Homo sapiens: one gene and its partners. Changing the gene in region 3 together with the main gene of any one other region gives a genetic interaction. Each region holds a gene or a part of one and is shown on either strand. Other genes may lie near its edges. The genes, in order: FIBCD1, KAT8, ATG7, RCL1, HSD17B12, CARS1 and CAD.

What was found.
Region 1: of ATG7 (region 3) and FIBCD1, changing one suppresses a phenotype caused by changing the other (phenotypic suppression), as found in Homo sapiens cells (one large-scale study listed by BioGRID).
Region 2: of ATG7 (region 3) and KAT8, changing one enhances a phenotype caused by changing the other (phenotypic enhancement), as found in Homo sapiens cells (one large-scale study listed by BioGRID).
Region 4: of ATG7 (region 3) and RCL1, changing one suppresses a phenotype caused by changing the other (phenotypic suppression), as found in Homo sapiens cells (one large-scale study listed by BioGRID).
Region 5: of ATG7 (region 3) and HSD17B12, changing one suppresses a phenotype caused by changing the other (phenotypic suppression), as found in Homo sapiens cells (one large-scale study listed by BioGRID).
Region 6: of ATG7 (region 3) and CARS1, changing one suppresses a phenotype caused by changing the other (phenotypic suppression), as found in Homo sapiens cells (one large-scale study listed by BioGRID).
Region 7: of ATG7 (region 3) and CAD, changing one suppresses a phenotype caused by changing the other (phenotypic suppression), as found in Homo sapiens cells (one large-scale study listed by BioGRID).

What each region holds. Positions count from the first base shown.
Region 1 is NC_000009.12:130,908,028-130,912,383, reverse strand, and holds part of FIBCD1 (fibrinogen C domain-containing protein 1), read left to right. Parts: intron 1-495; coding exon 496-592; intron 593-4,356. UniProt on the Homo sapiens protein: Acetyl group-binding receptor which shows a high-affinity and calcium-dependent binding to acetylated structures such as chitin, some N-acetylated carbohydrates, and amino acids, but not to their non-acetylated counterparts.
Region 2 is NC_000016.10:31,120,152-31,124,507, reverse strand, and holds part of KAT8 (histone acetyltransferase KAT8), read right to left. Parts: intron 4,323-4,356; coding exon 4,248-4,322; intron 4,170-4,247; coding exon 3,994-4,169; intron 1-3,993.
Region 3 is NC_000003.12:11,313,883-11,318,238, forward strand, and holds part of ATG7 (ubiquitin-like modifier-activating enzyme ATG7), read left to right. Parts: intron 1-1,461; coding exon 1,462-1,611; intron 1,612-4,356. UniProt on the Homo sapiens protein: E1-like activating enzyme involved in the 2 ubiquitin-like systems required for cytoplasm to vacuole transport (Cvt) and autophagy.
Region 4 is NC_000009.12:4,830,600-4,834,955, forward strand, and holds part of RCL1 (RNA 3'-terminal phosphate cyclase-like protein), read left to right. Parts: intron 1-2,554; coding exon 2,555-2,629; intron 2,630-3,541; coding exon 3,542-3,666; intron 3,667-4,356. UniProt on the Homo sapiens protein: As part of the small subunit (SSU) processome, it plays a role in 40S-ribosomal-subunit biogenesis in the early pre-rRNA processing steps at sites A0, A1 and A2 that are required for proper maturation of the 18S RNA.
Region 5 is NC_000011.10:43,853,774-43,857,318, reverse strand, and holds the end of HSD17B12 (very-long-chain 3-oxoacyl-CoA reductase), read right to left. Parts: intron 2,605-3,545; coding exon 2,455-2,604; intron 2,176-2,454; coding exon 2,071-2,175; 3' UTR 704-2,070; downstream 1-703. UniProt on the Homo sapiens protein: Catalyzes the second of the four reactions of the long-chain fatty acids elongation cycle. This endoplasmic reticulum-bound enzymatic process, allows the addition of two carbons to the chain of long- and very long-chain fatty acids/VLCFAs per cycle.
Region 6 is NC_000011.10:2,999,844-3,003,197, reverse strand, and holds the end of CARS1 (cysteine--tRNA ligase, cytoplasmic), read left to right. Parts: intron 1-597; coding exon 598-657; intron 658-1,023; coding exon of another isoform or gene 1,024-1,056; exon of another isoform or gene 1,057-1,144; coding exon 1,145-1,228; coding exon of another isoform or gene 1,229-1,236; exon of another isoform or gene 1,237-1,305; intron 1,306-1,949; coding exon 1,950-2,084; 3' UTR 2,085-2,269; downstream 2,270-3,354. UniProt on the Homo sapiens protein: Catalyzes the ATP-dependent ligation of cysteine to tRNA(Cys).
Region 7 is NC_000002.12:27,230,320-27,234,675, forward strand, and holds part of CAD (multifunctional protein CAD), read left to right. Parts: intron 1-1,148; coding exon 1,149-1,261; intron 1,262-1,660; coding exon 1,661-1,905; intron 1,906-2,128; coding exon 2,129-2,375; intron 2,376-2,722; coding exon 2,723-2,821; intron 2,822-2,992; coding exon 2,993-3,217; intron 3,218-3,306; coding exon 3,307-3,489; intron 3,490-3,688; coding exon 3,689-3,907; intron 3,908-4,198; coding exon 4,199-4,356. UniProt on the Homo sapiens protein: Multifunctional protein that encodes the first 3 enzymatic activities of the de novo pyrimidine pathway: carbamoylphosphate synthetase (CPSase; EC 6.3.5.5), aspartate transcarbamylase (ATCase; EC 2.1.3.2) and dihydroorotase (DHOase; EC 3.5.2.3).

The DNA of each region.
Region 1 (4,356 bases), on a different chromosome or scaffold from region 3:
CCCAGGCTGGAGTACAGTGGCACGATCATAGCTCACTGCAGCTTTAACCTCCCGGGCTCAAGGGATCCTTCTGCCTCAGCCTCTCAAGTAGCTAGGATTACAGGCATCCACCATCACACCTGGCTAATTTTTAAATTTTTTGTAAAGATGGGGTCTCACTATGTTGTCTCGAACTCCTGGGCTCAGCCTTCCTTGCTGGGATTCCGGGCATGAGCCACCATGCCCGGCCTGGAATTCCTCCCTGAGGAGCCGTCTTGGGGGCCTGTGGGCATTTGGTTAATCCCACCTCGAGCCACCATGAGGCTCTGGAACCTCTGCTGTTTTCCAGGCCCCTGGCCAGGGGCCGTTGCGGGAAGTGGGCAACCAGGCCCCTGCCCTCCCGAGAGGGCAGGTTGGGAGCAGGGTGAGGGGAGTCTCTGGGCGGGGTGGGCCCAGGTGGGCTGCGAGTCCTGGGATGGTCGGTGCCAACGCCCCATCCCCATCTTCCCTTTGCAGGTGTTTCAGCGCCGGGAGGACGGCTCCGTGAACTTCTTCCGGGGCTGGGATGCGTACCGAGACGGCTTTGGCAGGCTCACCGGGGAGCACTGGCTAGGTGAGCACCCCACCCACCATCCGGCCCAGGTGGGCCTCCTCCCCCTGCCTTCCGGACACAGTTGGGTCCCAGCTGCTCCCTGAATGGGTTTGGGCTGGGTTTCCCTGGCCTCGGCACACCTGAGCCAGCTCACAGGTGTCATGCATGAAGGTGACAGGCATTCAGAAGGAATGAGGCCAGACATTGCCAACGGAAGTGTCAGCGTGGGTGGGCTCCCAGTGCTCATAAAGGCTGAGGGTCCCACATGCCCTTGGAGGCCACTTCCTGCCGGGGTCACCCTGGGACCTGCTGGCTGTCCTGAATCAAGCCAGCTTGGGCAGGTGGTCAGCAGCATCCCAGGCAGCAGGAGGACAGAGGAGGACCCGGCCCCACCCTGCCCAAGGGTGCCAGGGACACCAGGCATGGAACTCCCAAGAGTGGCCAGTGGTGCTGAGTGTGTCCAGAATTGGTGGGTTCTTGGTCTCACTGATTTCAAGAATGAAGCTGCAGACCCTCGTGGTGAGTGTTATAGCTCTTAAGGTAGCGCGCCTGGAGTTTTTTTCTTCTGATGTTCGGATATGTTCGGAGTTTCTTCCTTCTGGTGGGTTCGTGGTCTAGCTGGCTCAGGAGTGAAACTGCAGACCTTCACGGTGAGTGTTGCAGCTCATAAAAGCAGCGTGGACCCAAAGAGTGAAAGAACAAAGCTTCCACAGCGCAGGAGGGAACCTGAGCGGGTTGCCGAGGCTGGCTGGGGCAGCCTGCTTTTATTCTCTTATGTGGCCCCACCCACATCCTGCTGCTTGGTAGAGCCCAGTGGTCTGTTTTGACAGGGGGCTGATTGGTGCGTTTACAATCCCTGAGCTAGACACAAAGGTTCTCCACCTCCCCATCAGATTAGTTAGATACAGAGTATGGACACAAAGGTTCTCTAAGGCCCCACCAGAGCAGCTAGATACAGTGTGTTGATTGGTGCACTCACAAACCCTGAGCTAGACACAGGGTGCTGATTGGTGTGTTTACAATCCCTGAGCTAGACATAAAGGTTCTCCAAGGCCCCACCAGAGCAGCTAGATACAGAGTGTTGATTGGTGCACTCACAAACCCTGAGCTAGACACAGGGTGCTGATTGGTGTGTTTACAAACCTTGAGCTAGATACAGAGTGCCGATTGGTGTATTTACAATCCCTGAGCTAGACATAAAGACTCTCCACCTCCCCACCAGACTCAGGAGCCCAGCTAGCTTCACCTAGTGGATCCCGCACCGGGACTGCAGGTGGAGCTGCCTGCCAGTCCCGCGCCGTGTGCCTGCACTCCTCAGCCCTTGGGTGCTCGATGGGACCGGGCGCTGTGGAGCAGGGGGTGGCGCTCGTCAGGGAGGCTCGGGCCGCACAGGAGCCCACGGAGGGGGTGGGAGGCTCAGGCATGGCGGGCTGCAGGTCCCGAGCCCTGGCCCGCGGGAAGGCAGCTAAGGCCCGGTGAGAAATCGAGTGCAGCGCCGGTGGGCTGGCACTGCTGGGGGACCCAGTACACCCTCCACAGCCGCTGGCCCAGGTGCTAAGTTCCTCATTGCCCCGGGGCCAGCGGGGCTGGTCGGCTGCTCTGAGTGTGGGGCCCGCCAAGCCCATGCCCACCTGGAACTCCAGCTGGCCCGCAAGCGCCGCACGCAGCCCCGGTTCCCGCTCGCGCCTCTCCCTCCACCCCTCCCTGCAAGCTGAGGGAGTGGGCTCCGGCCTTGGCCAGCCCAGAAAGGGGCTCCCACAGCGCAGCGGTGGGCTGAAGGGCTCCTCAAGTGCCGCCAAAGTGGGAGCCCACGCAGAGGAGGCGCCGAGAGCGAGGGAGGGCTGTGAGGACTGCCAGCACGCTGTCACCTCTCACCAGCCAGGGCTCCTGTTTGGGCCTGGAGGCAACCGCACGCCTTCCTGCCACTGGGACACAGTCCCTGCCTGGCACAAAGTAGGAGCTCAGAAGGTTCTGTCAATATCATTACCTATGTTTAAATTCACTCAGTATTTTAGAATTTTTGAAAGTCCTTAACATTTCTTTTTTTTTTTTAACATTTCACTATCTAAACAAAATATTCTAAACAAAACTTCATTTATCTAAACAAAACATTTATCTTAACAAAACATCCTAAAAGAATCACAACTTTGAGGTCCTATCTACCTATATATATTTGGGAAGTGGCTATGGCTTGAAATGAGGTGGATTTTTCTGGTTGTTCTTGAGATATAATTTACATACAACAAAATTCCCTGTGTGGAAGTGTATGACCCTGTGGTTTTTAGTATATTCAGAATATTACAACCATTGCCACTGGGTCCAGAACCTTTTCCTCACTCCAGAAGGAAACCCTGTACCCCCGGGAGCAGTCACTCCTTGCAGGTTTTGAATATACATGAAACGCACAGGTGCTGGGGAATGTGTGCCCCGAGTGTCATCTGGGCGGCCTCGAATGCCCCACAGTGTCCTCCTGCACTTAAGCCCCCCGGGTGTGTGCGGACATCCAGGGAGTTCCACAAGCTGTGGGGGTTGGGGGCGAGGGGCGGCGGAGGGGGCGCCTTGGGTGGGAGGGAGGGAGAGGGTAAGAAGGGTGAGGACATCCCGGGAGTTCCCCAGTGCGGGGCAGAGCTGGTGGTGGAGGGAGAGGGTGAGAAGGGTGTGGACATCTGAGGAACTCCCCTGCGAGCGAGCGGGGTCAGAGCTGGTAGGGAGGCTTAGGCGGGAAGGAGAGGGTGGGCCTGCGTGCCTGGCGGGAAGCACCACCTGAGAGGCTGAGAGCGCAGGTCTGGGCACCAGCCGGGGTCAGGAGGGCTCCAGGCCTGTAAGGATGTTCAGTGACACCCCTGGAAGATGGGGGGTCGGGGGCCCCAAAGGCAGGGTTGGGGTGGTGAGGCGGGGCCGCCCCTCTGTGTGCATGGAGGCCCCTGGGCAAGATCTGCCACCCATGCCCCCTCCTCACCGGGGCCCATGAGAGCAGGGCCCTCTCTGACCTGCCGTGCCCTGGTGCCCAGGGGGTGCCGACAACAGGGAAGGTCACACCCCGTGTGGACTTCATGCCCACACCCCGTGCTGACCCCCAACCCACTGAGCACCCAGCTACACGCTTCCCATGCATCGTCCCCAAAGCCTCACACCCACCTAGTTGGGGGCCCTGCTGTCGTCCCCTCCTTTTAGAGATGAGGAAGTTGAGGCTTAGGAAAGGGAGGTCCCTTGTCACAAGCCTGCGTGTGTTGGGGTTGGGGGAGCCCCAGCAGGGTCTACACACTGGCGCCCAACCCAGCTCGCCTCATCCCCGAACCTGGTGGGTGGAAGGAGGGGAGATGGGGAGACCCTGCCTCAGGCTCCCCAAGCTGGGGGTAAAGATAAGGACAAGGCGGCAGGGCCAAGGCATGCCCTCGCCACCACCCACCCCCTGGAGCAGCGGTGATGCCCGTGCTCATGGTATCTTAATTGAAATCTATCAGCAGCTGCAGATGATGCGGGAGGAAGCATTTAAGCAGGTCCTCATTCCAGCATCCTGCAGACGAGCCCTGACAGGAATGTCAACAGCGCCAGTCCCTCCTCTGCCGCACCACCCTCCCCATCCCCTCTCAATGAGTGCTTTGTCTTTTCCTATCGAGTCATGGAAGCTCTCTATATATTAAGGTTACCGATCATTTGTCCAACACATGATAGGTATTAACTTCTGGCCATTTGTCTTTCAGCTTTTTCTTTTTCTTTTGTGGGGTCATGTTATTATTTATTTCCTAGAAATTTAAGATGTTTATGCACTCAGTTCTGCCACC
Region 2 (4,356 bases), on a different chromosome or scaffold from region 3:
CCTGCGCCTGGCCTCTTTTTGTATTTTTAGTAGAGACGGGCTTTCACCATATTGGCCAGGCTGATCTCGAACTCCTGACCTCAAATGATCCAATCATCTCAGCTTCCCAGAGTGCTGGGATTACAGGCATGAGCCACTGCACCCAGCCGACATTATTTCATTTTGTTCCTCACAATGAGCCTTTGAAATAAGAGTGCTCATTGTCCCTGTTGTATGAGAGAAAACTGAGGCACAAAGAGGTGAGGTCACTTGCCCAAGGTCACAGAACTGGTACTCAGCAGAGTTGGGCATGGGCCCCTGGTCTGTCCAATTCTGAACCTAACCACTGTAAAGATGAGGAAGAAAGATTTTCCTCCTCACACATCTCTTTAAAACACATTTCCCAATTCTCACAAAATACAGTACTCTTCTGCAAATGCAATAAAGAACTACAAAAACACTACTTTTCTTAATTGTTGCAATTTATTTAGAATTAAACATTAATTAGGCTCTGAAGAACCTTGCTGATTGTTAACTGGATGATTGTTTCATTACCTATTCTTTGATTTTATCACCACTGGCCCGTTATCCACCCTGCTGGTTGCCAACTCAGAGGTATGTCTTTGTTGAGTGCAAAACAGTTGAGGAATTAATCTTAGATCTACACTGTCCAATAAAGTAGCCACTTGTCACATAGGGCTATTTAAAATTATACTCAGCTAAACGTGGTGGCTCACGCCTGTAATCCCAGCACTTTGAGAGGCCGAGGTGGGAGGACCACTTGAGGCCAGGAGTTCCAGACCAGTCTGGCCAACATGGCGAAACCCCATCTCTACTAAAAATAAAAAATAAAAAATAGCTGGGTGTGGTGGCACACGCCTGTAATCTCAGATACTTGGGAGGCTGAGGCACAAAAATTGCTTAAGCCAGGAAGGCGGAGGTTGCAGTAACCCAAGAGCTCGCCACTGTACTCCCGCCTAGGTGACAGAGTGAGACTCTGTCTCAAAAAATGAAAATTTTGGCTGGGCACGGTGGCTCACACCTGTAATCCCAGCACTTTGGGAGGCCGAGGCAGGCGGATCAGTTGAGGTCAGGAGTTTGAGGCCAAACATAGTGAAACCCTATCTCTACTAAAAATACAAAAATTAGCCAGGCATGATGGTGCGTGCCTGTAGTCCCAGCTACTTGGGAGGCTGCGGCAGGAAACTCACTTGAATCTGGGAGGCGGAGGTTGCAGTGAGCTGAGATCGCACCACTGCACTCCAGCCTGGTTAACAGAGTGAGACTCTGTCTCGAAAAAATAAAAATAAAATTTTTTTAAAAAATGATAATTAATTTTTTTTTGAGACAGTCTTGATCGGACACCCAGGCTGGATGGAGTGCAGTGGCATGATCTTGGCTGACTGCAACCTCCATCTCCTGGGCTCAAGCGATTCTCCTGCCTCAGCCTCCTAAGTAGCCGGGATTACAGGTGTGCACCACCACGCCCGGCTAATTTTTGTATTTTTAGTAGAGATGGGGTTTTGGCCATGTTGGCCAGGCTGGTCTCAATCCCCTGACCTTAAGTGATCCACCCACCTCCGCCTCCCAAAGTGTTGGGATTACAGGCGTGAGCCACTGCACCCATAATTTAAAAATTTTTTTTTTTTTGAGACGGAGTCTCACTCTGTCACCCAGGCTGGAGTGAGCCCAGGATCTCGGCTCACTACAAGCTCCACCTCCCGGGTTCACGCCATTCTCCTACCTCAGCCTCCCGAGTAGCTGGGACTACAGGTGCACGCCACCACGCCCGGCTAATTATTTTGTATTTTTCAGTAGAGATGGGGTTTCACCATGTTAGCCGGGATGGTCTCGATCTTCTGACCTGGTGATCCACCCACCTTGGCCTCCCAAAGTGCTGGGATTACAGGCGTAAGCCACCGCGCCCAGCTAAAATTCTTAATTCTTCGTCACACTAGACACATTTCAAGTGCTCAACAGCTACATGTGGCTAGTGGCTACGGTACTAGATAGTACAGCTATAGAACATTTCCATTACAATAGGAAGTTCGATTCGGCAGTTTAGACCTTGAGGAGTTCTTCCAGTTTAGGGTATTTCAATTTTTTAAATCACACCACAGTAGGAAGTACACTTGGCACTGTAACATGTCTGTATATACACACAAGTATGTGCTAGGATCATCGGGAAGGTAAGGCTGGAACAAGAGGAATCCTGCACACTTTTATTGGGTGTGAAATAAAAGCTTCTCAAAACAATACCTACACTTAATAAAGTGCAACACCCTGATTTTTCTATCTTATCCACTTTCTTTCTTCCATTTAAAGAAATTTAAATGTTGGGCTTGCCCACTAACTCATGTACTCAGAAGGATGAAGCTGCAATAGCTGAAAGTAACAAATGTCTGGGTGTCTGGAGACTTTGACAAATCTTGCTCTGGTGTGCACTCCTGATTTTTATAAATTTAGAAACTGAGACTTGGTCGGGCGCAGTGGCTCACACCTGTAATCCCAGCACTTTGGGAGGCTAAGGCAGGAGGATCGCTTGAGACCAGGAGTTTGAGACTAGTGTGGGCAACATAGCAGATCCCGTCTCTACAAAAAAATAAAAAATTAGCTGGGCATGGTGGCACGTGCCTATGGTCCCAGCTACTCAGGAGGCTGAGGCAGGAGGATTGCTTGAGCCCAGGAGGTTGAGGCTGAAGTGAGCCATGATTGTGCCACTGCACTCAGCCTAGACGATAGAGTAAGACGCTGTCTCAAAAAAAAAAAATAACAATAATATGTACAATTATTAAGTATCAATACAAGAAAAAACCAAGGCAGGTACAGGGATGCACTCCTGTAGTCCCAGCTACTTAGAAGGCTAAGGCAGGAAGAACATTTGAGCCCAGGAGTTCAAGTCCAGCCTGAGCAACACACCAAGACTCCCGTCTCTTAAGAAAAAAACCAAAATCATTGCTAAGGCCTCTGGCTCTGAGGTAGCACAATTTAGCTGGTTGATCAAATTCCTGTCTGGGTCCCTAAACTTATCTGTAGCTCTTCTGCATGCTTACTTCACAGGCCTACTGTGAAATGTCAGTGAGGTCATGTATTAAAACACTTAGCTTAGGCCGGGCGCAGTAGCTCACGCCTGTAATCCCAGCACTTTGGGAGGCCGAGGTGGGCAGATCACCTGAGGTCAGGAGTTCGAGACCAGCCTGACCAATATGGCGAAACCTCGTCTCTACTAAAAATACAAAAATTATCCGGGCGTGGTGGCAGGTACCTGTAGTCCTAGCTACTTGGGAGGCTGAGACAGGAAAATTGCTTGAACCCAGGTGGCGGAGTTTACAGTGAGCCGAGATCATTCCACTGTACTCCAACCTGGGCGACAGAGCAAGACTCCGTCTCAAAAAAAAAAACAAAAAACAAAACACACACACACACACACACACACACACACAAAAACCATTTAGCTGAATACTTCTGCTCACCGGCTAACAAGTGTTTGGCATTATTATTCTAATTCCAGCCCACCGTTTTACTGGCTGTGTGACCTTGGGCATGTTACTTAATCTCTCTCAGCCTGCTTCCTCACCTACCAAAAAAGTAACTATTCCTGTGTGTTGAATTGTTGGGAAGGATTTGAGGAGCTTATACATATACAGCACTTGGCAGGGTGCTTGGCTATAGCAACTGCCGAATAACATTCTCGTCTTTCCCACTGAACTTCAAGTCATTTTTTCTACTAAGACACAGCTACTAGGAGACAAAAGAGGCTACCAGTGCCGGAGGCCTGAGTTCTAGTCCCAGCTGTGCCATTTCCTTGCTGTGAGACTGCAGCGAAGCCCTTACCCTCTGTCTGTTTTCTTACCTATGAAAAGTAAGTAAGAGGAAGTAGGTAAAGTCCCTGACACACTACAGGAGCTTAAGAAATGGGATTTGCTATGGTTTTGGCACTGGGGCCCGAGAGACCCAAGGGAACTGGCAGAGAAGCTGGGCCTCCTGGGCCCGTGGATGGGAAGGGATCCGGACCTTCTGCACATGGTTGATCTCATCATGCTTGCGCTTTTGGTTGCGAGTGATCTTGCGCTCAGGCTGCTCTGCGAGCTCGCTCAGGTACTTCTCTGAGTTCTTCTGTACAGCATCCTTCACTGTCTTGGTCAGCGCCAGCCGGTTCTTGTCTACCCACTCGTCCAGCCGCCGGTTAACTGTAAGTATGGGCCATAAGAGTGCTGCCAGGGCAGCCAACTCCCTGCACCCACGCCCAGATGTGCCAAGCCACTCACAGCCCACGTAGTGTACATAGAATTCCTCTCGGCCCTCCTGGTCGTTCACTCGAGACTGGATCACTTCAGCAGAATCTGTGATGGAAAAAGGCTAGGGTCATCAGGAAGG
Region 3 (4,356 bases):
AGCCACCCTGCCTGGTCTGTAAAGTCATTTTGAAGATGTAGTGCACAGTAATTTTCCAGGTTTTCAGTGGTATTTGGTGAAATGCTAAGCCAGTAAGGGGGAATTATAGGAATATTTTGAAACACTGAAAGAATTTACCAAAATGTGGTCTTCATTTTCAATGTGGGGAAACATAAGGCAGTATAGTCTGGGAAAGAGTCTTTGAAACAAAACAGAAGGCATTCTCCTACCCTTGTACCAAGTTGCAGAACTTTTCTACCTGGAGCAGTACATGCAGAGTTAGTCGGTGACATTTGGGATAGATAATAAGTTCATTAGAGATGGTTCCCAGAAGAGCAGTTAAAATAATCAGGCTGGTATAACAGAGACCCTAAACTAGAGAATTCTTATTGTTGTTAAGGCAAAGATTATGTGTCAAGATGATTTGAATTCTTGAAACACATCAATCACTAAAGCCCTGAATACTGATGCCATCATTCAGGGAGCTCTCTTGGAGCTGTTCAGGGAGCAGCCATTATTGATTAAATTTTTTTTGTTGTTGTTCGTACAAATCCGAGGTTGTGGTTTTGTGGAACTAATTTCCCAAGAGGAAATATAAGTAAGGAAAAAGGATTTTGGCTGAGTATTGACTGCTGGCAGGTATGGGGTTTCTTTTATTGAGGACAAAAATGTTCTGTAATTATTGCTGTGGTGCTTGCATAACCCTGTGAACATACTAAAAAAACAAACAGCACATTGCATTATGTACTTTAAATGGGTGAATTGGGCCAGGCACGGTGGCTCACAACTATAGTGTAATTCCAGCACTTTGGAACGCAGAGGTGAGCATACCACTTGAGCTCAGGAGTTCAAGACCAGCCTGGGCAATATCGTGAAACCCCATCGCTATAAAAAATACCAAAAAAGTTAGCTGAGCCATGGTGGTGTGTGCCTGTGGTCCCAGCTACTCAGGAGGCTGAGGTAGGAGGATTGATTGAGCCCAGGAGGTCGAGGCTGCAGTGAGCTGTGATTGCCTGGGTGACAGAGCAAGACCCTGTCTCAAAAAGTAGTAAATGGGTGAGTTGTATGGTATGTTAGTCATGTCTCAGTAAAGCTGTTGAAGATTATGGAAAGGTTCGGGGTAAAATTCATCAGGGGTAGATTCATGTTGGGTTATCATAGGAGAGAAAGAATGTTTCGTTACCGCTCTAAAACTCTGATTGACAGCTTAGGGAACTACCATGTTGTAGTCCCTTTGTGCCCCTAAGACACACACCACCATGCCCCTGGAAAGTGTTATATAAAAGCTAAGTGGTATTATTTGGAGGCACTTCTATGTTCACTTGCTGTAATAGAGTAAGAGGAGTGTGATCAGTCATTTCTAGTCTTCTGGTTTTAAGGTACCTTTTTTTTGAGTTAGTTTTTAGCCCAGAACTAGAAATGTAATTTTCTAGAGAATAACAACGTGTTTTCTGTTTTCAGATTGAAGCACTAGAGTGTGCATATGATAATCTTTGTCAAACAGAAGGAGTCACAGCTCTTCCTTACTTCTTAATCAAGTATGATGAGAACATGGTGCTGGTTTCCTTGCTTAAACACTACAGTGATTTCTTCCAAGGTCAAAGGACGAAGGTCAGATAAACTTTGAGTATCATTTTATTATATAGTTTTTTAAAAAATCTGAAGTTCATGTTACAAGAGACCACTGCAAAATTCAAACTTGTTTAGATTTCCTTAGCCTTCAAAGGATGTTTAAGAACATTTCCTTATCTCTATCCTCTCCCACCCCTACAGTTATCGAATCAGCTCCTCTAGGTTTTTCTAGCTCTACTACAGCTCAGAATAATTTTGATACCTTACTCTTTTTTTTTGTTTGTTTGTTTGAGATGGAGTCTCGCACTGTTGCCTGGGCTGGAGCGCAGTGGCGCAATCTTGGCTTACTGCAACCTCTGCCTTCCTGGTTCAAGCGATTCTCCTGGTCAGCCTCCCGAGTAGCTGGGACTATAGGTGCCCGCCACCATGCCTGGCTAATTTTTTGTATTTTTAGTAGAGACAGAGACGAGGTTTCACTATGTTGGCCAGGTTGGTCTTGAATGCGTGACCTGCTTCGGCCTCCCAAACTGCTGGGATTATAGGTGTGAGCCACTGTGCCCAGCCAATACCTTACTCTCTATTAGTGCTAAAGTTATTTCCGTTTTCCCTCCTGATGTATTTTACCCTCTATGTTTTAATTTTTATTCCCAGAACTACCCTGTAGTTCAGGCCCCTCATATCACACTCCTGGACACTTAGAATCTTGTTTCCATGTTGTGCAACACTACTGTAGAAGAATCTCCCTTGAACTACCCACATTTAGTGTATCATTCATTGACCAAGAGCATAATGGTGTCTTCCTTCTGGCTCCAAGCTGCCTTTCCTGCCTTATCTTCCATTATTTTCCTCATAAAGCATTGCTCCAGCTAATCTTATCTATTTTTCTCCAGAATCTCCATCCCCTTCCCGTCAGATACATCTAAAACTTTTTTTGTATCTTTGTTTTTCCTCGTGTTGTATCATCTTCCTAAAACATGTTCTACTTGTGAAAACCCTAAGAAATTCTCTCTGTCTTATTGAAATTCTATCTCCACTGTGAAGCATTATCATGGTGTGGCCATATATGATCTATCCCTATCTGAAGTCACTGCATTTATTCCCTGATCCTCATTTGCAGGTCCAGTACCTTGTACAAGTTTCTTTTTGTGCCATATTAGACTGTAAGCTCCAAGAGGGCAGGGCCCAAGTCTTATGAATTTGTGTCTGCATAGTGTCTAGTACTTGTCTGAGGCCCTCAATAAAATTCTTTTGAGTGAATGAAAGAGTACCGTAAATGTCTTTTAGAAGTGATCAGATATATAGGAAGTTGTCTTAGCCATACAGGAGACTATGAATTAAAAATATCAAAGATTATGAGTGTTATGAAGTTCTGAAATCAAATGGAATCATCTCCATAGCCATGTGAATATATCAGAGCTGAAAAAAGGAAAGCCTTTAACTGACGGTCTGGTTATTCTTTAGCCTGAACTTAGGATGACTTTTTTTTTTAAAAGCACATTTTAAAATCAACTACATTTACATTTTATTTTTCAGAGGAAGCCCACCTCCCCTTTTTTGTTGTATTTTTATTAGAGATGGGGTTTCACCGTGTTAGCCAGGATGGTCTTGATCTCCTGGCCTTGTGATCCGCCCACCTCGGCCTCCCAAAGTGCTGAGATTACAGGCGTGAGCCACCACTCCTGGCCCAGAGGAAGCCCTTTTTAAATTGAGGACTGAAGATTGAATTTTTATTAAAATTCTTTCCCCCAGGTGATTTCACAGAACCACAGCTAAATTAGTATAGCAATAAGACCGTTAATAATTTAAAGTCCAATCTAGTGTGAAGTCCTCTTGTCATAGCAGGCAGGATTAAATGGCCTGTGTTTGGAAGCGACCGTAGGTCAGGTTGTATGTGGTAAATAAGTGGTCCTCCCCAAAGTGCAGCTCTGCCAAAATAATAACAGTTTGAACAGTGCTTTACAATTAATTTAAAAGGGACTTTCACATACTTGATCTTTTTATGATAAGTCTGTGAAACAAGCGTTAGTTACTACCTGTGGTTAGTTAATTAGTATCTGCATTTTCTGTTTGAGACTCAAAGTCACACGACCACATTGTCTGATTCCGAAGCCTATGCCCTTTCTTTCTTTCTTTTTTTTTTTTTTTTTTTTGTTTTTGAGGCAGAGTCTTGCTCTGTCGCCCAGGCTGAAGTACAGTGGCACGATCTCGGCTCACTGCAACCTCCGCCTCCTGGCTTCAAGTGATTCTCCTGCCTCAGCCTCCCAAGCAGCTGGGACTACAGGTGCGCACCATCATGCCCAGCTAATTTTTGTATTTTTAGTAGAGATGGGGTTTCACCATATTGGCCAGGCTAGTCTCAAACTCCTGACCTCGTGATCCTCCCGCCTCGCCCTCCCAAAGTGCTGGGATTACAGGCGTGAGCCACTGTGCCCGGCCACAAGCCTATGGCCTTTCTACCATTCCCTTGACCTTGGGGAAACTGCATAACTTTTCTTTGTATTAGTTTATCTGTTAAATGGTGGTAATGCCACCTCCTTATAAGGTTTTGTGAGGATTAAACATGATAATGTGAATAAAATGCTGAGCACATGGTAGATGCTCAATATGTATCCACTTCCTTTATGTTTCAACAGCAGTATATTTTGAAAGACAACAAATCTCTGGGGTCTCCTCTGAAGTGCTCTGAGGGATTCACCAGAAACCTGTCCCTGAGACTAACTGCCTGTCTGCTTGTCGGATTCAGGCACACTATCCTTCACTTGGTTAGGGTGGTATCTCAGGAAA
Region 4 (4,356 bases), on a different chromosome or scaffold from region 3:
ATGAAGATTCCATTCTTTTCCAGTTCCCTCTTAGAGAAGGAAAAGAAGTACAATAATGTCTCCCATGTACTGGGCATTATTCTAGGTGTACATATGTATGTATGTGTATATCCATATCTGTTTAATTCTTCTACCAACCCAGTGAGGTGGGTGTTTCAGACAAGGTAACTGGAGAGCAGGTTTCTTCCTCTCTTTTTTCTTTTTTTAGCATAGATTGATTACATTTTTACCTTTTGATTGATTGACTGCGCTGTAATGGTAATACCTTTGCCCTGAGCTGCCACTTAGGGTTTGATCTTTGCCTTTTCTCTCTGACCGCAGAGTGGACCGATCACTTTCCCTTAAGCAGAACTTACAGGCCACCATCACTCTGCTAAAACTAGAATGTGCAAAGCTGCAGGAGACTGGAGAGTGTTCGGCCCAGCCTCTCATTTTACGAAGGAGGAAACTGAGGCCCAGGAGACAGGGAATTGTCTAGGGTCTAACAGCCAGTGAGAGGCAGAGTAGGTCCCAAGCCCTCATCTGCTTTTCCTGCCCTTGTCCCACCGCACCAAGTTGCCTGTCTTCCATGTCATATGGAGAGTGATAAAGGGACAGGACTACACCTGGAATTACCCTTGGGCTTCTTGCTGAACTAAGTAAATTTGGCTTCACTCTTTGTGACTCAAGGTATAGGAAGGATGAGCCAGAAGGAATGCTGTGTTTTTTCACCTTTTTTTCCCTCGAGAGAGCCGGTGGCTGCCCAGAGTAACTGCAGCATTGCATCCCCTACTTTTTCAGAATCTGACTTGGCCTTCTCCCCAGCTGCTCTTAAGCCTCGACTGTATTCTTCTTTATCTGGCAACGCCAAATGCATATATTAAGTTTTTGAGTGTGCTTTATTTTTTTATTTTTAGAGAGAGGGTCTCACTCTGTCTCCCAGGCTGGAGTGCAGTGGCATGATCGTGGCTCACCAAAGCCTTGAAGTCCTGGGCTCAAGTGATCCTCCCACCTCAGCCTCTCAAGTAGCTAGGACCACAGGCGTGCAGCATGCCCAGCTTATTTTTTTTTAGTAGAGATGAGGTCTCACTATGTTGCTCGGGCTGTAGCTTTAATATTTAAAATTAGCTAATCTTCAGTGGTTTTCCTAGTTTCCCCTGCCCCACCTGATCCATTCTAAGCATGTTCTTAGGCCTCACAGGTCATTCCTAAGTCTGGTATTTTTCTGATATCACAATATTTAGTTGGGGCTTCTTAGCCTGTTAGAGTTAGTTGTAACTTGGAGATGGCTGGGCTTGAGCCCCTTGCCTTAGAGATAAGGAAATTCAGATAGTTGTGATTTTCTTGTCTGAGGCAACATAGCTAATTAGAAGCAGAGCTGGGACCAGGACTAGGGCTTTTCCTATGCCTTCTGTGTGGTGCCTGCCCTCCCTGCCAGCTGACAGATCCAAGAAGGGAACAAGTAATGGAGTAATTTTCTTTCCCATGTAGCAGTTGAGGCAACATTTGCCAACTCGTTAGATAACAGTACCTGATTTGAATGCCATCTTTCTACTCTTATCAGGAATCCACAAATGGATCAGAAAGACCCCAGACTTCCTGGGAGCTCTGAATGCAGGAGGAGATAACAGTTACACGTGGCAAAGTCTTGCCATTAACTATGGATGTTGTAACTAATTGTAGTTTTGAGTTTGTGCTGCTTCCTGTAGTTTGAGGCTGTCATCACCCCGACTCCCCAACTCCCATGTAAAATCATCACCTTCCCTTTAGCTGCCTGTGTGGTGCTCATCATTGGCATTCTTAGGTGAGCTGTTGAATAGTTAATTTGGTTTGCTTTGACTCGGAATGCTACCGGCTCTAAACATTAAATAACCCTACTGGACAAATGTTAATGAAAAAGATGATTTTCTTCTGTACGTTTATACCTATAAGAATGAGTAGGGTTCTCCAGGCTGGGTGTGGTGGCTCACACCTGTTATCCCAGCACTTTGGGAGGCTGAGGTGGCAGATTACAAGTTCAAGAGATTGAGACCATCCTGGCCAACATGGTGAAACCCCGTCTCTACTAAAAATACAAAAATTAGCTGGGCGTGGTGGCACATGCCTGTAGTCCCAGCTACTCAGGAGGCTGAGGCAGGAGAATCGCTTGAACCTGGGAGGCAGAGGTTGCAGTGAGCCTAGATCGCGCCACTGCACTCCAGCCTGGTGACAGAGCGAGATTCCACTCAAAAAAAAAAAAAAAAAAAAAAAAAGTAGGGTTCTCCATTTGTTTTCTACAACAGTCCAGTCTCTCCATGCTTTTTGCATGATGCCTCTGATGCACACGATGACTTTAAGGTAGGTGTTGGTCTCCATGTCATGAATGAGGAAAGTGCGGCTCAGAGAAGCCCAGTGGCCTGTGAAATCACAGTGTTCCTCAGGCAGAGCCAGCCCACTCGCTCAGTTATATGCCAGCATCCTTTCTGTTTACCACACTGCATCATCTACCTGGTTGCTAAGCCTTACTTGTTTTTTTTGACTCTTGTATTCTGCTGAAGGCTTAATTAAACTTTTCTTTTCTGAAATAATTTCATAGGTTGATGTTCTTAAGGCAACAGCACTCCCTTTGTTGAAACAATTTGGGATTGATGGTGAATCATTTGAACTGAAGGTAAGAATGTTTGAACTGTTGACCATATGTTCCTGTGGAAAACATTTTCCCACTGACTCATTGGAAGAGCTGTGTGACTCAGTGTATGTGTGTCACATTTGAAGTCACCAGTTATCAGAAGACTCACAGGGCTCATGAAATAAACACTACAGACTTTGAACTGAAAGGGACCCTTTAGTAATAACAATAGTAGCTGACAGTGATGTTGCACTTCTTTTGCGGTGGGGGCCGTTCTAAGCAGTTTACAAATACTAACTCCTTTTCTCCTCACAACAGCTCCGCCCATGTGCCTCAGCTAGCAAGCAGTGGAGAATAGATTTGGGCCATATTGGCTCTCTGATCTAAATGATCTGGATATAATTTATGTTCAGGGGCTCCCAACCTGGATGTCCCTGAGAATTTTCAGTATTTCCAAAATCTAGTAGAAGTAGTTTAAGCATCTGTATTTTGTTGAATTATATCAATCCAATGTGGTAAACCGTTTAGCATCTCTGCCTTTTACATTCATGTTTTAAACAGGGGAAATGACTTCATTTTTATTTAATAATGTTTTGGTAGATCCGTTATTTGCATGGGAGGAGAAAAAGGGGTTTCTGATTATTAAGAAATGGGCTCAGATGATGGACTAGGTCAGCTCTATATTTTAAGGATAAAGAAGTGACCTGTTCAGGGTTAAAGAGATGAGTGGCAGAGCCACTTGGGTAATCGACTTGGACTTTGACACATGCTGCACAGGTACTCTCTAGGAGCCAACATAAGGTGCTGTTGGTCTTGAAGGGAATGACAGATTGAATATGGAAGAGCTATGCCTTGTAAGGAAGCATCTGCTGGTGTAAACCTTCCTGGGCAGGGTGTCAGGGTAATCCATTGCTTTGCTGCATCCTCGCCTCATCTTTCTCACTCTCTGTGTAGATTGTGCGACGGGGAATGCCTCCCGGAGGAGGAGGCGAAGTGGTTTTCTCATGTCCTGTGAGGAAGGTCTTGAAGCCCATTCAACTCACAGATCCAGGAAAAATCAAACGTATTAGAGGAATGGCGTATCCTTTCCATTTATTTGGATTTCTTTTTTTTTTGTTGTTGTTGCCTCACTAAGATAAGAATGACTAACAGCTTTACTTCTTCCCGAGGTTATTTACATTTTAGACTACAACTTTGAAAAGTCTTAACAGTGAAATTGTAATTGCTGGCTGAGTTAGGATGTTCTGTTATCTGCCTCACCATGACTAGATTGATTGAGTCATTCTTTTTTTTTTTTTTTTTTTAATTTTCCGGTTAACATTTAGGCAAATGGCTCTGATGTATGTGATCCTCTCTCAAGGGCTTTGGTTTGGGGGCCATGAATATACTGCAGTTCCTCCCTCAGAAGACGTCATCATTCGGTGAAGGAACCAAATATGAAAACACACAGTTCTGATATAACATGCAAAATGATATGTGCAGTGGGGTGGGGGCCTGGAGTAGACAGTGGTCAATTTTGTCTGGAGGACCTAGGGAGGCTGGAGTAATCATAATGAATGATATCTACTATTAAGTATTTACTCTGCATCTACTTCAGTAGTCACTTTACATGCTTTTAAGCCTCACATTGACCCTTGAGTTCACTTACATCCTTTTTTGCAGATGGGGAAACTGAAGCTTCAAAAGCTTAAGGAATTTCTTAATAATGTCACACTGCTAATAATGACAGAGCTAGGATTTGAACCTGGTCTGTGTGACTCTAAAGTACA
Region 5 (3,545 bases), on a different chromosome or scaffold from region 3:
TGTTTTCTCTTTTAACATAATTTTTCTTTTCATGTGCCTAGAAAAATACATTTTTACGTCATCACCTTCACCCTGGAGTGTCAAATACAAGTGGGTGCTTGCCAAGTTGAAGCAATCAAAGCCACAGCTCAGAAGTTTTGAAATTCTTAAGGGATTTTCTAGCCAGAATTACAACTGCTTTCTTTTTTTGAGACAGGGTCTTACTATGTCACTCAGACTGGAGTGCAGTAGTAGTTCAATCATAGCTCACGGTAGCTTCTAATCCCTGGGCTCAGGCAATCCTCCTGCCTCAGCCTTCCAAGTAGCTGGGACTACAGGTGCGTGCCACCACACCTGGCTAATTTTTTATTTTTTAATTTTTTTGTAGAGACAAGAGCTTGCTACGTTGCCCGGGCTGGGCTTGAACTCCCGGGCTCAAGCAATCCTCCTGTCTCAGCCTCCCAAAGCATTGAGTTTACAGGTGTAAGCCACTGTGCTTAGCCTACAACTATTTTCTAACTGGGATAAAAGAAAAAGAGAGTATTTTGTATACTTGCAAGAGAATCCCTCCTCTATCTACCACCACTACACTAAAACCAACTCACCAACCAACCAACCAACCAACTAACCAACCAATGTGTGAAAGCAGATAAAATACTGTCCAGGTCATTGTGGTGTCACCATTTCTACAATGAAATGAGAGGAAAAAAGGGCAAACAATGTGTTTTTCATAAAGCTATATATTTATTCAACTTAAATGACAACCTTTATTCTGAGATTACATTCTTCCTAATTTTAGGGGCTAAAATATATTTTCTTTTACATAATGATGCTGATAGCAGATGGCTATTTGTTTTTGTTTGTTTATTTTTGTTTTATGTCCTTAGCTGGCAAAATTAAAAGCCAGAAGCTAAGGCCCCATTTTTTTTTCTTTTAATACAAATCTACTGGTGCTGAAAACTCAGAGCTTAGGAAACACAGCCTAGGTAAAGACCAATCTTCTTGCTGCATATTTCACAGTATTGAATTCTTTCTTGGTGAGTTCTCCATACAAGTTATGAAGCAGGATAAAAGTCAGTCTTATATTAAGTCATTGTAAATACGGCCTTAATTTCAATCACCAAAGAAATGTATTTTTGTTGTATACCATGGTTGCAGCATGTTTTATTAAAACTAATTATATCAATAGCTACCTGTAGAGTATCAACTTAAAAATTATAATGCCATTTCTATGAAGTCATTACTTTTATAGGACTAGCCTGTGTCATATGTGTGATCAATATTGGTTTAATGCAGAAACAAAGGCAGCTGGGTGTCCAAGCAAGCCACTTTTCTGGGTCAGGGTTTCAGTGGTACCATAGATGGCTGCCAGTCTCAATGTACACTTTGGCCCATTTATCTTTATAAATCATACCATATAGCTTCGATATTTACATACATTTAAACTGAGAAGAAATATGCATTATAAGAAAGCATAGTTTAGTGGGCTTCATGTGTCAGAAATAATTCCATATTTCACAATTATTTTCATGTCATTAGCTACCCTTGATAAAGAACAATTCCATATAAATGTACAAACTGGAAGATAATTTTATAAAACCGTAAAGAGATCTTTGTAAATTGCAGTGTGTCTGCTTATAAACAAATCAAATCGATCTCCATTTCTTCAAGTGTCAAAAACAAAAGAGTAGCTGGACATTGGTTTTTATAATCAGTTTCAGAGAAAATACAGGAATAATGATCAATGGCATTTTGAAGCAGATAAAACTGCCAAGTTTTATGCTTGAGTCTATCATTCTGTGATTTGCTATAATAGTATTCCTTTCTATTAGGTGTTCCCGACAATATTAGTTCTATATTCATTTGATATGAGCATTTATATTAAACTTCAAAATTACCTCGGATAGTATCCAGAATATATGTCAGAAACCCCTAAAAGCAACTTCTATTTTCCTCTTAATTAAGATAATATTTAGTCATGTTAATAACTATTGAAATGACAAGGTCAGATTTTCAAAACCAGTAGGGTGCTTTGCAGTGAACGTGCATATGCTGGAGCATCTGGCCAAGTTACAATGCAGTTATCAATGCTTAGTTCTTCTTGGTTTTCTTCAGATAGTGAGCCCGTGTAGACTTGTTCATATTCATGACTATTTTCAAATAAATCCAAGAAGGCAGGTTTGAGATTATCGAGCCCTAGGGAAACAGAATGAGAGAGATATGTAATTATAGCCTACAATTTGGGCTAAATTGAAGCATATGATTTAATGTTTTATTATAGTGTTGTTTTTATTTATAGGTAGATTTTAAAGTTCTTGGGTATACGACCATTATAATTATAACAAGATATAGATATCTTGTTACTATGGCTGGACAATGTATATGTGCTAATCTATTACATACTATCCTGTAACTCAATGGGAAAGAAACCCCAAGCCAGAAAGTATTGATTTGTGATTCAAAAAATCTACCTACCATAAGAGCATGGATCAGGTATCCATTGGTTCGGGATTGCAGGCCGACTGTTTTAATTGCAGACTTCACAAACGTCTCCGGAGAGGGCTTATCCAAAGTTGGCTTCCGGATTTTAGCCAGTTTTGTAGCTACGAAGTATGGCAGGACACTCTAGAAAGGGAACACCCACCCCAGAAAACATGCCATTGATTAGTAAGGCCACAAACTCAGAATGTACAGTGGTGCTTGACTGCTCTTAGTGGTAGAAACATCTGTATCTTTACAGAGAGAGAAGAAAAGAGAAGTGGCTATCTAAAGCCAACTTGATAGAACACATGATACCATAAAACAAATTGTAACAAATCAATCTCTCAATAAAACAGAGTTTGAGACCAGAGAAAGTATTAAAAATAAGCAGAAATCTACCTTTTTGAACCTTTAAAAAGGAAAGCATTAAATAATCCAGAGAGCACAGATTCAGGATAGGATACTTTTCACACTTAGTAAACTCAACATTGAGACAGAACCACCAAGTAGGAGATCTTTGATACTTTATTCTTCTAATGGGATAATGCCAACTTTCTCCATAATTTATGGCTAATTAAGCTTGTTCTATCAGCTTTGATCCTTCTAAAATAGACATCTTATTTCTCAGACTTGCGTTACTACTTTTCTTCCCTAGTTTCTCACCATTCTACTTCTGAGTTTTATAAACAATTTTATTGATAAGATAGAACCACCTCCCTTTTTTTCTTTTTTAGAAGAAACACAGTCTAACAATATGGAAACTGTTTGGGTAACTAAAAGACACCTGACTGGATGGGTGTAGGGTGACAAATCTGGACATGACCTTTAGAGGAACTTCAATAATGTTAGGTTCTTTATTGCTTAAGCTTGCTGCATTTTGGATGTGATTCAACACAGAGTATAAGGAAACCCTATTGTAACAAGTCCTGAGTCATGATACAAGAGGTCCTTCTGTAGTTTGAAATAACCTGGGCATGGTAGTTCAACAAAGAGTGAATGTATTGTTTATCTCACATGTGTGAAGTATCACTGCAATGATACTTCTTTTTTTCTTTTTCTTCTTTTTTTTTTGAGGCAGGGTTTTG
Region 6 (3,354 bases), on a different chromosome or scaffold from region 3:
CCGAGGGCTTCCCTCACCGGCACCCAGCCTGCTGGCTCCACTAATAAGCTCTCCCTGCAGCATCAGACTGTCCTCGCCCCTGCCCGGGTGCTGCCTGCTGGTTGGAGTGGGCTCTGGTCTCCTCACCTAGCCCCCAAGGCTGCCCTCCGCCCACCATCCCCATCCTGCCCTGGCGCTCTTGCTCCTTCCCAGGTACCCCAAGACCCACTCAGGATAACCCTCACAGTGCTGTCCTGGTCATTGCCTTACAGATCCTCTCTCCTTGGGCCAGGCTCACCATGCTGGTCCATTTCTTCATGTTAGTGGTGCCTGGATCTTTTAGCATTGGTTCTGTTTGTCTGCCTGCTGCATACCTTTGCATCTAGGGCAGGGCCAGGCACCCAGGGGTGCCGCTGAGGATCCCCAAAGGGAATGGAAGAGGGTCGGTGTGCTGCCCGGCACATGGGCTTGTCTCCCCACAGTGGGGAGGGCCTGGTCAGAGTTCAGCCCTCCATGCCAGGCCCTAGGAGAGGGGCTTGTTTGGCTAGACCTCTCACTCCGAGAGACCCAGCAGCCTGAGGCAGCCCTGTCTCATCTGGCTCTGTATTGACCCTCCAGGTTGAAGAGGAGAAGAGGAAGAAGAAAGAGGAGGCGGCCCGGAGGAAACAGGAACAAGAAGTAATGCATTTTGTTTGGGGGTGAGGGCTCTACTGGGCAGGAGTGCACCCTGACCCCATGCCCTGTGGCTCTCTGTGCCTCCGTGGACCTTAGCCAGGCCCCTGCAGACCCTCACAGAAGGAGCTCCGCTTTCTGCCTCCACCACCCAAGGCCTGCCAGGCCCTTCTCACATGGGGTGCAGGGAAGGCCTGGCCAAGGGGAAGGCTGTGCCATGTGGTCACAAGCTCCAAGACAGCGTTTATAGACTTACTACTATTAGGTTTTCTAGTAAGCTTTCCACTATTCCTGTAGAAATAACATCTGGTTTAATTTTAAATTCCTTGTATGTTCCCTCCACCTTGGCTTTCCCCTTCCCATCTTTCATAGCACTCTGAATCTGAGGGCTTGGAAGCAAGTTGAGGGCTGGAGGTATGAGCAGATGTCGTTCACAGTGCGGAGCCCCAGGTGCTGCTCGGGGGCAGTGACTGTGCCGTGTTGCGTGTTCTAGGCAGCAAAGCTGGCCAAGATGAAGATTCCCCCCAGTGAGATGTTCTTGTCAGAAACCGACAAATACTCCAAGTTTGATGAAAATGTAAGCATGTAAGCATCCTTCTCTTCTATTCAGAACTTGATCAGACCACATTAAAGTGGGAGGACAGGAATTTTCAACCTTGGACAAGCAGATTTTCTGTCTGTAGAAAATTTGGAATCAAATCTGACACCCGCTTTAGGTCCAGGGCCTCCTGGCCCAACTACTGAGCTCCTTCCACAGCCCAGGCAGCTAGGCAAGCCCGTGCCAGGGCCCCCTCCACTGGTGTGGTGAGCTCTGGTCCCTAGCCCTGGGAGTTGTGGCCCCGGGCCAAGATCCACCCAGGCCCTCACAAGCTGGCTGAAGTGCCGTGGCGCAGATAGGCCTCCTACCCCCAGTTTCTTCCTTTGTCATAGCGATTCACAGCCACTGCCTCCAAACCTCTAGGCCCCTCCCTGCTGGCATTTGGATGTGTTTGCTATGTACCTTTGGGCCAGCTGTGTCAGAACTCAGCCATGGGTAGGCTCTGAGGGGCACAGTGCCCCTCACCTTAGGCAGGAAGCACCCCCAGACTCTGGTCGCCCCTCTCCCATTCTTAGCTGCTGGAGCCAGCACTGCCAGATGAGTGTGCTGGCTCCAGAGCAGTGTGGTGACTGAATGTCCAAGCAAGAGGACATGGCTGCATCAGGGAGATAGACACTTTGAGACGGGAGGGCAAAGAAAGGGGAGTTGGGGTTACCCAGGTGCAGAGGAGACCAATAGCCGCTGTGCTCTGGGTTTTCAGGGTCTGCCCACACATGACATGGAGGGCAAAGAGCTCAGCAAAGGGCAAGCCAAGAAGCTGAAGAAGCTCTTCGAGGCTCAGGAGAAGCTCTACAAGGAATATCTGCAGATGGCCCAGAATGGAAGCTTCCAGTGAGGGGGCACAGGACTGACTTTTTAAACCATTGTGGACTAGTGGCTGCTGTCTGCCTCAGTGACAATGTCCCAGCGCTCCTATCATGTTTACAGTCACCCTTGGGTCCTAAATTAAGAGTTGTGTTCATGTAGGTTCGTGTCGTCGTTGGCTCTGAGACATTGATAATAAATTTTTCTCAACAGTGAGACCCTCTCTGTCTTGTTCTGCATGTTCAGCACTTGGCAGGAGGCCTGGTGGCCAGCCAGGGCCGCTTGGTCAGCAGGTCACAACTTAGGTGCTTGGGTCAGTTGAGCTGCTTCAGCTGGCCGAGGAATTTCTCCCCCATGCTGATGGCTATCGGCTAATCTCTGGTGTGTGGGCACATTGGGAGGTATTTGAGTAGGAAAAAGACAGGCTCAGACTGGCAGAGCCTGCTGAGCCCTAGACAAAGGCCGCTCAGTCTGCCCTCGGGTTCTGATGAATAAACACACTGCAGGTTTTCCTAGAGCCGTTCCATACTGGGCAGCAGCACAGCGAGTGGCTCAGCAGGCAGGCCCCTGGCGAGCTGCCCAGAACTGCCGCTGGAGACAGCAAGTCCAGGATCTGCATGGCTAATGAGTGAGTTGTGGGGGTGGTCTCAACACAGCAGGGGCCTTCTTGTCCCCAGTGCCCAGTGTTGTCCTTGCCACCCTGCCTCCACACCTGGTTCACCTGGACTAAGAATCACCACCCAGACGCGAAGGTGCTTACCCATCCTTGGCTGAGGAGGGCGTAAGCAGAAACCACAGCCTGCTTCATGCCTGCGGAAGCTGGTGCCAGGCCATATCCATCGGGACAAAAGACAGTCATTGGTGCTGTGGACATCCAGGGGGGGACACTCCATCCAGTGCATGTGGATGGTGGCAGCAGCCTCAGCATGGGGAGTGTGGCAGTGTTGGGTTGTGGGTGCGCCAATTCTTTGTCCTTGCCCTCCGCATGCGCATGCTGTTTACTGCAGTAGTGTGTGACACAGCAAAAGGCTGGAACCAGCCTGTCTGTGCATCAGCAGGGTGCTTGGCACAGCTTGAGAGCACCCACCCAATTATGCAGGGAGCACTAAGGTTATAAATCAATGAGGACAGTCTCTGGGTATTGATAGGCCTGACTTTGAACCTTGTCAGTATTTTATATATAAAAAAATTTAAACCAGCAAGAAAGAAAAGTCCCCCAAACAAAGTAAAACAAACATGTTCCAGTTATCTGTTGCCACTTAACAAATCACCCCAAAACTTCATGGCTGAAAACAACAATG
Region 7 (4,356 bases), on a different chromosome or scaffold from region 3:
ATATGTATGCTGTGATGATATGTAAAACATACCTATGAAGGGCCCGGCACGGTGGCTCACGCCTGTAACCCCAGCACTTTGGGAGGCCGAGGCGGGTGGATCACGGGGTCAGGAGTTTGAGACCAGCTTGGCCAACATGGTGAAATCCCGTCTCTAATTAGCCAGACATGGTGACACGCACCTGTAATCACAGCTACTCAGGAGGCTGAGGCAGGAGAATCTCTTGAACCCAGGAAGCAGAGGTTGCAGTGAGTCGAGACCGTGCCATTGCATTCCAGCCTGGGCAACAAGAGCGAAAGTCCATCTAAAAAAAAAAAACCTATGAACCTATGAAGAAAAGTCCAGAAAGAGAAACTCTAAAATGATTGTTGTAAATGTGATTTGCTCTGCATGGATGAGTAGTAAGGATCATCTTCCTATTATCTACACTTTTTTAAAAAGTTTTAAAGAATTCCAGTTGGTGTTATGATTATGTGAATAAATCAAACCCAATAACTGGACAGCCATCAGTGGTTTGGGCCACTGTGATAAACTTCCAGTATCCAGTGTATGGGGATATATTCCAGTATCCCCATGCCCGTTTTAGGCATATTGATTCCATATTCATCAATAAGCACAAAGCCTGAGCTTATCCATGAAAATAGCAGGGAAAAGAGCTATAAGTTAAGATTTCTTTTTGTTTGTTTGTTTGTTTTGTTTTGTTTGAGACGGAGTCTCGCTTTGTTCCCCGGGCTGGAGTGCAATGGTGTGATCGCTGCTCACTGCAAGCTCCACCTCCCGGGTTCACGCCATTTTCCTGCCTCAGCCTCTGGAGTAGCTGGGGCTACAGGCGCCCGCCACCACTCCCGGCTAATTTTTTTGTATTTTTAGTAGAGACGGGGTTTCACCATGTTAGCCAGGATGGTCTCGATCTCCTGACCTCGTGATCCTTCCGCCTCAGCCTCCCAAAGTGCTGGGATTACAGGCGTGAGCCACTGCGCCCGGCCATTAAGATTTCTTAGTTGTGAAACACCATGAATCCCACCATCATGTGACTTGCCTTGAGAATCTCCCAGAGTCTTGACTATAAACCATAAGCATTATGGGCAGTGCCTTCTTCCCACCCCTTCCACCTCCACACCTTCATTCCTTCCATTCTGTTCTTCCAGGTGAAGTCATGGGCATTGGGCGTTCATTTGAGGAGGCCTTCCAGAAGGCCCTGCGCATGGTGGATGAGAACTGTGTGGGCTTTGATCACACAGTGAAACCAGTCAGCGATATGGTAAGTAGCTCCCCTCCCCTGGCAATACCCCTAAAATAGACCCTGCTTCTCATCGCCCCCAGACCATGAGCTTGTTACCAGTAACACTAGCAGCAGTCATCATTGGACATTTGCTTTGTTTCCACTTTGCTGAGAATTTTGAGATGTCTCATTAGCACGCAAGGGTGTATTACTAGACTTGTTTTTACAGATGAGGAAACTGAGACATAGGTTATAGAAATTACTCAAAGCCACATAGCCAATGAGAGGTAGACCCAGGATTGGTATCCAGGTTTTTGCAGTTACACAGCCTGTGCTCTGGTGTACAGTTTCCCCTTCCTGAGACAAGAGCAGCTACTTACGCTCAGGCTTTTAGATGGGCTGGCAGTAGCTTCCGTCTGTCTACCCCCTTTCTATCAGGAGTTGGAGACTCCAACAGATAAGCGGATTTTTGTGGTGGCAGCTGCTTTGTGGGCTGGTTATTCAGTGGACCGCCTGTATGAGCTCACACGCATCGACCGCTGGTTCCTGCACCGAATGAAGCGTATCATCGCACATGCCCAGCTGCTAGAACAACACCGTGGACAGCCTTTGCCGCCAGACCTGCTGCAACAGGCCAAGTGTCTTGGCTTCTCAGACAAACAGATTGCCCTTGCAGTTCTGAGGTCAGAGGTGGCAATGAGAGCTTCCGGCTGGGAAATGTGGGGCAGAACCTTTGTATCAGTGAGGGACCCTTGGGAGGGAGGAAGGAGAGTGTGGGAGAGCTTTAGAGGCTTCTGACCTTGGTTCCAAGGATATTTCCTCTCATCTGTGCCCTGGGGTCTCAACCCTCTATCAGTCTGTACCCTACTCTCTGGGCCTGTGTTTCAGACCCTTTTTCTATTTTAGCACAGAGCTGGCTGTTCGCAAGCTGCGTCAGGAACTGGGGATCTGTCCAGCAGTGAAACAGATTGACACAGTTGCAGCTGAGTGGCCAGCCCAGACAAATTACCTATACCTAACGTATTGGGGCACCACCCATGACCTCACCTTTCGAACACCTCATGTCCTAGTCCTTGGCTCTGGCGTCTACCGTATTGGCTCTAGCGTTGAATTTGACTGGTGTGCTGTAGGCTGCATCCAGCAGCTCCGAAAGGTCAGAGAGTTCATTTTCTTTCCACTTTCCTTGCTATTCTGTTCATCTCTAGCAATTGCTTGGCACTAATCCTGGCATTTCCTATTAATTGCCGTCCCTTACTTTGGTCATAGAGCTTTGGGGTGGGGGTCCTTTTAGGCCATCTCTCATGCCCCACACGGTATATGAATCTCTTCCCCAACACTTTGTACCTCCTTCCCTCCCAAGGCAGGGGTCCTGTACAGCTCTTTCAGAGGAAGCTGTGCTGGCAGTCTCTGAAGTAGGGGCTTTGGCTTAGTTTCTCCACGATTTTCTCCACGATTTTCCTCCCACCTGACTGCTAAGTACCCTTCCCCTCCCTCTTGCAGATGGGATATAAGACCATCATGGTGAACTATAACCCAGAGACAGTCAGCACCGACTATGACATGTGTGATCGACTCTACTTTGATGAGATCTCTTTTGAGGTGAGGGAGATGGAGGCTTCCTGGTAGCTTGAGTGGCCAGGGTCGAGTAGAACAGCTGGCTGACCTAAGATTCTTTGAAACTTGGTGGCGGCTGAGGGAAGCAGTGAGCAGGAAGGCTCAGATTCCTGCCCTCTTTTGCTGCCACCACTTGTTTCTCCCCCTGCAACGTAGGTGGTGATGGACATCTATGAGCTCGAGAACCCTGAAGGTGTGATCCTATCCATGGGTGGACAGCTGCCCAACAACATGGCCATGGCGTTGCATCGGCAGCAGTGCCGGGTGCTGGGCACCTCCCCTGAAGCCATTGACTCGGCTGAGAACCGTTTCAAGTTTTCCCGGCTCCTTGACACCATTGGTATCAGCCAGCCTCAGTGGAGGGAGCTCAGTGACCTCGAGGTGGGCTGGGACCTGGTGGGTTACCCGGAGGCTGGATGATGCTTGGGGGAAAGTGTGAACAACTCAGCTAAGCTCCCTGCCTCCTGTAGTCTGCTCGCCAATTCTGCCAGACCGTGGGGTACCCCTGTGTGGTGCGCCCCTCCTATGTGCTGAGCGGTGCTGCTATGAATGTGGCCTACACGGATGGAGACCTGGAGCGCTTCCTGAGCAGCGCAGCAGCCGTCTCCAAAGAGCATCCCGTGGTCATCTCCAAGTTCATCCAGGAGGCTAAGGTGGGAGGCTGCAGACAGTGAAGTCTCTGAGGGCATGCTGCCAGCCCTGGAGGAGACTTCCTTCTCTGGTCCAGCAGAATCATAGGCACCAGGGCTGGGAACAGTGGGCTATGTGGGGCTCGTTAAAGGAAGAGACAATCCTAGAGTAAGTGAGAGAAGAAAGTGGCCCTATGTCCCACTGTCTGTGTCCCCCCGCTAGGAGATTGACGTGGATGCCGTGGCCTCTGATGGTGTGGTGGCAGCCATCGCCATCTCTGAGCATGTGGAGAATGCAGGTGTGCATTCAGGTGATGCGACGCTGGTGACCCCCCCACAAGATATCACTGCCAAAACCCTGGAGCGGATCAAAGCCATTGTGCATGCTGTGGGCCAGGAGCTACAGGTCACAGGACCCTTCAATCTGCAGCTCATTGCCAAGGTAATAAGGCTAAAGGAAAGAACTAAAGGGCCACAGCTCTTGCATGTTCTGTGCTGGCCACAGTGCCATGAAGCCCTGCACTGTCTCCTGCCTTCATCCAAGTAGGCAGGGAAGCTGGAGGGAAAGGGCTGTAGCTAGAGCTCATGGTGTTGGGGCTTATGACAGTCAGTGACCCTGAACCCTGCTCAGTCTGATCCCCCAGAGCTGAGGACGGAGAGGAAGAGTCTAGGCCTATAGATAGTGTCAGCAAGGCCAACCTGCAGAAGGCCTGACCAGTCTTCTCTGCCCCAGGATGACCAGCTGAAAGTTATTGAATGCAACGTACGTGTCTCTCGCTCCTTCCCCTTCGTTTCCAAGACACTGGGTGTGGACCTAGTAGCCTTGGCCACGCGGGTCATCATGGGGGAAGAAGTGGAACCTGTGGGGCTAATGACTGGTTCTGGAGTCGT